Homo sapiens: one gene and its partner. The protein of the gene in region 1 purifies or fractionates together with the protein of each later gene. This does not show direct contact. Each region holds a gene or a part of one and is shown on either strand. Other genes may lie near its edges.

Evidence for each region.
Region 2: the proteins of ACSL5 (region 1) and TMEM238L purify together in Homo sapiens (co-immunoprecipitation; one study listed by IntAct). This does not show direct contact.

The regions. Positions count from the first base shown.
Region 1 is NC_000010.11:112,418,853-112,422,672, reverse strand, and holds part of ACSL5 (long-chain-fatty-acid--CoA ligase 5), read right to left. Parts: intron 1,081-3,820; coding exon 1,008-1,080; intron 727-1,007; coding exon 638-726; intron 349-637; coding exon 232-348; intron 1-231. UniProt on the Homo sapiens protein: Catalyzes the conversion of long-chain fatty acids to their active form acyl-CoAs for both synthesis of cellular lipids, and degradation via beta-oxidation.
Region 2 is NC_000017.11:10,798,043-10,801,862, reverse strand, and holds part of TMEM238L (transmembrane protein 238-like), read left to right. Parts: intron 1-3,820.

The DNA of each region.
Region 1 (3,820 bases):
TGTTGGCCAGGCTGGTCTTGAACTCCTGACCTCAGGTGATCCACCACCTCAGTCTGTATGTTCTTCTCTGGATAGTATGAGGAAGTCATAAGCCAGGTAGGGTACAAACCTAATCCCCTCCAGCTGCCTCAGCTGATTAACCTACTTGCATTTCTGCACCTCTTGCTATAAGCAGATTGTTCTTCTCAGTCCATTAGCATAGACTTCCAGGAGTTCTGATGATATACCTACCGGGAGCCAGCGACCAATGTCTCCTGTGTGAAGCCAGCCATCACTGTCCAGGGCTTCCTGTGTCTTCTCAGGGTCCTTCAGGTATCCTTTGAACACGTTTGTACCCTTGATGCAGACCTGCACAGCAGACATACAAGGCGGTGACAATAGCAAAGGCTGCTCCTCCCAGCGTGGGCAGTTTATGAAACACCTGCTCCCCTTAAATCATTTGATGGCTTCCACTACACTGTGAAGAGCACCAGATCTAAGTCTCCACTATAGGGGATAGGAAAGTGAAGTTCAGAATGCTTAATTCTTTGCTAACAATCTCAAAGGGGCCAAATCCAAGTTTGCTTACAATTATTTGCTCTTTCTGATATAAACCTCCCCACCATGACTGTCTGACCACAGGGCATGACCTACCCACCTCTCCTTCATTATTCACTGTAAAGTAGTTCATGTCAGCCACATCTTCCAGCTTCACGTAATTGCAAGCCAGGGGCACCCCAACGTGACCTAGAACATACCGTGCTGAATTAGCTGAGAAACTCTTGCATGGTGATAATTCCAGGCACATTTCTAAGATATTTATGAATTGACTCTAGAAGAGGAAGACTGAAAAATCACCTGGCACCAATGCAGACTAGCCAAGATAGGCAGGCCTGGACCCAAAACTTGAATTTTGCATTTGCCACATTAGTCCAGAGAACTGAAGTTATCTAAACTCCAAAGTCCTAGTTCAGTTAGAACCTTTCTCCCAACCATGGCACCTCCTGCCCAGCAGATGGAGGACTTACCTGATGTCCAGTCCCCAGGTAATGTAAATGTACAGCCACCTGTGCATTCTGTTTGACCATAAGCTTCATACACCTGGGAAACCAAAGAAGAGCTTTTAGACTTACTCAAGATAAAGTGTGAGCTGGCCACGTGCTATGGTCAAGACACGAGGAAAGCAAGGTCTCTAAGGGTTCGAGACCACTTAGTGTCTTAAAACCTTGAACTTGGAGGGGGCGGTGGCTCATGCCTGTAATCCCAGCACTTTGGGAGGCCGAGGCGGGAGGATCACCTGAGATCAGGAGTTTGAGACCAGCCTGGCCAACATGGTGAAACCCCATCTCTACAAAAACACAAAAAAAATTAGCTGGGCATGATGGCAGGTGTCTGTAATCCCAGCTACTTGAGAGGCTGAGGTGGGAGAATCTCTTGAACCTGGGAGGCAGAGGTTGCAGTGAGCTGAAATCACGCCATTGTACTCCAGCCTGGGTGACAGAGCGAGACTCCGTCTCAAAAAACAAACAAACAAACAAACGAACAAACAAAAAACCTTGAACTCATACCCAAGCTGCAAAGTATTTACTACCAAGCCTTCTGGCCATTCAGAAACCAAAAGGGTCTGGAAATAGACCAAAGCATAGAACTTTATATGAAAATGCAGCATTTTGGCCAGGCATGGTGGCTCATGCTTGTAATCCCAGCACTTTGGGAAGCCAAGGCGGGAGGATCACCTGAGGTCATGAGTTCGAGACCAGCCTGACCAACATGGTGAAACCCCATCTCTACTAAAAATACAAAAATTAGCCGGGCCTGGTGGCACATGCCTGTAATTCCAGCCACTCAGGAGGCTAAGGCAGGAGAATTGCTTGAACCCAGGAGGCGGAGGTTGCAGTAAGCCGAGATTGTGCCATTGCACTCCAGCCTGGGTGACACAGTGAGCGAGACTACATCTCAAAAGAAAAAAAAAAGAAAAAAAAGAAAAGAAAATGCAGCATTTCAAGTAGGTGGGAACATGTAAGTTATTCACTAAGTGGTGTGCAACCCAATAGCAATTGAACTTGACCCTGAGCAATGGAGCATCACTGAAGGAACTGAAGAAGGGGAGTAGTATTTTTTAAGGGAAATAGCCCCCACTATGATATAAAACAAGGGTGGGCAAACTTTATCTGTACAGGCCAAGATAGTAAATATTTTCCACTTTGTGAGCCATCTGGTATCTGACTCAAAACTTGACTCTGCCAAAATAGCACAAAAGCAGCCACAGTCCATATATAAATGGATGGACATAGCTGTATTTGAATAATATTTTTAAAATAAAAACCAGCTGCAGACTAGTTTTAGCCAGTGCTACAATTTGCCAATCCTTGGTATAGAAGATAATCTTGACTGGAGAGAGGCTGGGGGCAGGAAACAAGTTCAAGGGCTGCTGCAATGGGGGGTGTGGCCTGTGATAGGCAGAGTTGGGAGAGAGAGGAAGGCTTAGAGAAGACATTTCGGGAAGGAGTTAGCAACAGGACCTGCTGATCTATTGGTTTTAGGGGCTTAAGGAAAGGACAGTATTAAAAATGGCTAAGAGGATGCTAATTTGAAGGACCTCAGGCCTTGGCATCATTCTGGAGTCTCTTTTGATTGTGGTTATACAGATAGGGGACTCATGAGGAAAAGTCTATGCCTGTTTTGTTCATGCTCTGCATGGTTGGTTGAATGAATGAACTAATTATCCATCTGGGTGAAAATTGAGACAATATGCATGGCCAAGCACTTGGACAAATTTCAGGTGGAACTGAGACTTAAAAGGAAAAAATGGAAAATGGTAAGTTTGCCAGAAAATAAGGGTGAAACAGTCTTATGAAATATTGGGGGTTAGGAAGTCCTGTCTAAGCAGTTTAAAACCTACAAATAGAAAAGATTATTTAGTTTGACTATAAAAACATTGGAAATTTTTATATGGCAATACACAGGGCAAAAATGATGAGACCAGGAAAAATGTTTCCAACATGACAAAAGTTAATATTACAGGTTGACTATTCTAATCCAAATGTTTGAAATCCAAAATGTTCCAAAATCCAAAACTTTTTGAGTGCCAACATGATGTTCCAAGGAAATGCTTTTTGGAGCATTTCAGATTTTGGATTTTCAGATTCAGAATGCTCAACTGTTTTATAATGCAAACATTACAAAATTGGAAAAAAATGCAAAATTCAAAACACTTTTAGTCCCAAGCATTTCAAATAGGGAGATACTCAACCTGTATTACTCTGTGAAGAACTCTTAGAAATATAAAAAAGGACCAAATTATCTTTTGCCTGTTTTTCTATAAGGAAGTAATAGAATAATTCATGGATAAAATATACATGTCAATAAGCAATAGAAAGATGTTTGGTGTAAATAAAAGAAACAAAACTGTAATAAGATTTTTCATTTATCTGATTAGCTAATATCTGAATGACTGATAAAGTCTGTCACTGGCAAGAGCATGGGCAAATAAGGCCTTGTATACTTGCAGAAATGTGCAAAAAAGATCTTTCTGGAAGAAAGTTTGATAATATACATTATTACACACACACACACACACACACACACACAGATACATTGTGTGTATTACTTTGACCCAATAATCCCTTCTTGCGTGGATTTATTCTAGATTATTAATTGATTATAACAATGAAAAATATCATAAGCAACTCAAGTGTCCATTAATAGGAGATTAGTTATTTGGGTACGGTTGACCCTTGCACAACACAAGTTTGTATGGCACAGCTCCACTGATAGGTGGATTTTCTTCTGTCTGTGCTGCCCCTGAGATAGCAAAACCAACCCCTCCTCTTCTTCCTCC
Region 2 (3,820 bases), on another chromosome or scaffold:
CTGCAGTGAGCAGAGATTGCACCACTGCATTCCAACCTGGGCGGCAGAGTGAGACCTGTCTCAATTAAAAAAAAAAAAAGACACATGACGTGGGGGCTCTACTCTCAGGGAGTTTACCATCAGGTGAGAAAGACAGACACTCACCAAAGATTCACACTTACAAAAGTACAATAACAAAGTCAGGTCTGCTCTAGGAAGGAGAGGAGCATCCTGCCACAAGAATATTCAATAGAGAAACTGACTCAGAAGATGGAGTCAGGGAAAGCTTCCTGGAGGAGGTGATATTATGCTGAATGCCAAAGGAAGAGTGGGAGGTGAATGGAAAGTCTTTCAGGGAGAGGCAATGGCTTGGGCAAAGGTCCTGGGATAACAGGAAATAAAAGACGACAGGGAGATTGAAGGGCAGAGAGCAAATGTCGGTGAGGGTTAGGGCTCTGTGGTAGACAGAGGCCAGATCTGGCAGGGCCTCGAGGGCCCTCTGAAGGATTTTGGTCATTACTTGAAGAACAATAAGAATCCACTGAGGGCTGGGTGCTGTGGCTCACACCTGTAATCCCAGCACTTTGGGAGGCCGAGGTGGGCAGATCACGAGGTCAGGAGATCGAGACCACAGTGAAACCCTGTCTCTACTAAAAATACAAAAAATTAGCCGGGCGCAGTGGCAGGCGCCTGTAATCCCAGCTACTTGGGAGGCTGAGGCAGGAGAATGGCGTGAACCCGGGAGGCGGAGCTTGCAGTGAGCCGAGATCGCACCACTGCACTCCAGCCTGGGTGACAGAGCGAGACTCCGTCTCAAAAAAAAAAAAAAACAGTAAAAAGGAATCCATTGAAGAGATATAAGCAGAGGCAGGGGCTTAACATAATTGGACCTGTGTTTCCAAGAGACCACCCCGGCCACAGTATAGGTTATTATGGTTATGATTATTACCGGCTGAAACCCATTTGGGGAGCCAAGACAAGTACCCAAACAACACAGAGTCCCCAGTGTGAGGCTCCGTGCCCTGAACAGCCTTCCCTCATTGAACAGAAGTTCAATAGCCCGGCGTTGAAGAGCATGGGCCATACCTAGACTCTGGCTTGAATCCAGTTTTATTCCTTTCTAGCAACGTGACTTGGGGCAAGTTACTTCACCTCTCCGTGCCCCATTACTCCAAATATGTAAAATGGAGATGGTGCTAATAATAGCCACTACGTCATAAAGATGTTGCCCAGATTAGGTGGATTAATATTTGTTCAGCACTATGCAAGTGATGACTAAATAAAGCGTCAGTCACGATGCAGGTAGCCAGCACATTACAGAGGGTGAGGCCCTGACGCATTACGATCAGTTCTAATGGCAATGTACAACATTAGGATTTTTCAGTAGATATGAGACTGAATGCTGCTCCAGAATGCTAGAGTTTTGTCCTGGTTCAAAGAAACTTTAGAAGTTTTAATATGTTCTTTATTGTATTCTTTACTGCATCTCCATCCCCTGACACATTTCAGGGATGGCCCAGAGTGACAGATTCGTGTGTGCTGAGTCCTGCTGTTCAGGACGTTGCTCACTTATGGGGCTGCCCAACCCTCCTCCACCCCATGGCCTTGGGCGAATCATTTTACTTCCCTTTAGAGTTAAAGATGTGGTTTCCGGCCAGGCCTGGTGGCTCACGCCTGTAATCCCAGCACTTTGGGAGGCTGAGGCGGGCGGATCACGAGGTCAGGAGATCGAAACCATCCTGGCTAACACGGTGAAACCCTGTCTCTACTAAAAATACACAAAAATTAGCCGGGCATGGTGGCGGGTGCCTGTAGTCCCAGCTACTTGGGAGGCTGAGGCAGGAGAATGGCGTGGACCCGGGAGGCGGAGCTTGCAGTGAGCCGAGATCACGCCACTGCACTCCAGCCTGGGCGACAGAGCCAGACTCCGTCTCAAAAAAAAAAAAAAAGATGTGGTTTCCAAGGGAGGTTTCAAACTGTGTTCTGCCAATGTCCCTGGAAGGGAATTGGGCCTGGGGTGAGGGGCAGAGTGAGGGGACAGGAGTCCAGCAGCCCTACCCACCCCGTAACACACATTTCACCCAGAACAGTGGAGCTCTCAGCAGCTTTGCACATTAAACTGGCACGTAAGACTTTACATGAACACAAGTTTCTGATGCCAAAAAATATTTGAAAAGCAGCTCGTCTCACTTCCCCTACAGCCTACGACCTTTGGCCTATATGTCAATTCCAGACACATTCACGATTTACGGGCAGATTGTAACTGGCTTTGCCAGCTCTCTCATTCTCAGAGCGGGGTAAAAGGAAAGAATGTGGGCTCCCTGCATTCAGAGCTGATGCCCACATTCCTAGCTCAGCCTTCAGAGGCTCTGTAAGATGAGGTTGAGGCCGGGCATGATAGCTCATGCCTGTCATCCCAGCACTTTTGAAGGCCAAGGCCAGAGGATCACTTGAGGCCAGAAGTTGGAGACCAGCCTGGCCAACATAGTGAAACCCCGTCTCTACTAAAAATACAAAAAATAGCCAGGCATTGTGGCATGTGCCTGTAACCCCAGCTACTTGGGAGGCTGAGGCAGAAGAATAGCTTGAACCTGAGAGGCGGAGATTGCAGTGGGCCAAGATCGTGCCACTGCACTCCAGCCTGGGCGGCAGAGCAAGACTCCATCCCCCAAAAAATAAAAAATTAAAAAATGAGTTTGATAGGACCTGCCCCCACCCTGCCCCAGAGATGAGGAGGTCCCATGCTCGGTCAGGACAAGGCAGGGGCCTGGCTGCCCCACAAGCCTTCTGCCCACAGCCTGCGTGGTTCTCCAGAGAGAGGGCAGGGTGGCTGCTAAACCTCAAAGGCACCCCCAGGAAGTTTCAGGGCGAGTGGCTGATTTTTATAGATCAACTGTGCTCCAAGAGAGACAAGCTGCCGTTTGATTTTATCACCTGGTCACTGTATTTTCAGATTTTTTTTTTTGCTCCATTTTCCACTTCTTGGTTATTTCCTGCAGATAAAGATAAGTCCCCAAGCAAAGTCAGATGAAGACTCTTGTCCTTTTTTAATAGGGTGTCCAAGACTACACACCCAAACAATACACACACACCAACACCCCACACACGTACACACACATCCCTCTTCTACTCCACGTGTTCATGCACACACAAACACGCCCCCCACACACTCACACCTACCACACACATCCAGAAACACACACTCACAGAAACAAACACACCCACCACACACTCACACCTACCAAACACACACCCAGAAACACACACTCACAGAAACAAACACACCCACTCTCACACCAACCAAAGCCAAAAGGCTAACAGCCTTGAGCCTTGGAAAATGAAACTTGTTCCTCCACTTCGACTTTTTCCAACAGGCAGCCTCTCCCCTCTGCCCACAGAGGAGGCCAGTGGAGCTGCCAAGTCAGCTCAAAGGTGAGCCTGGTAAAAAGCCCTCCTCTCCTGCTCAATGAATCTGTGCCCCATGCAGACATGGTGCCAGGGCTGTGTGGAGGAGCAAACATTTCTCTAATCTCTCCAGGGATTTTTAATCTAAGGGGAGAGATAAAGCATGTGCACGATACTTCACAAAGTTTCCAAGGGAAAATGCATTGCAGGAGATAAGCACAGTCTTGCCAGGGCTCTGAAAGCTGAGAGGAGGCACAGAACCTCCTGGCTGGGGGAAGCGTGCTGTGTGTGGTTCTGGCTGGGCTGCTAAGGAACAGGTAAGAATGTGACAAGTAGAGATGGCACAGGGACAGCAGCCGTGGGTGGTGGGTAGGGGGCAGTCCAGGCAAAAGGAAGGACTGCAGAAATGAAAGAATTAGGGTGTCTAGGAAAAGCT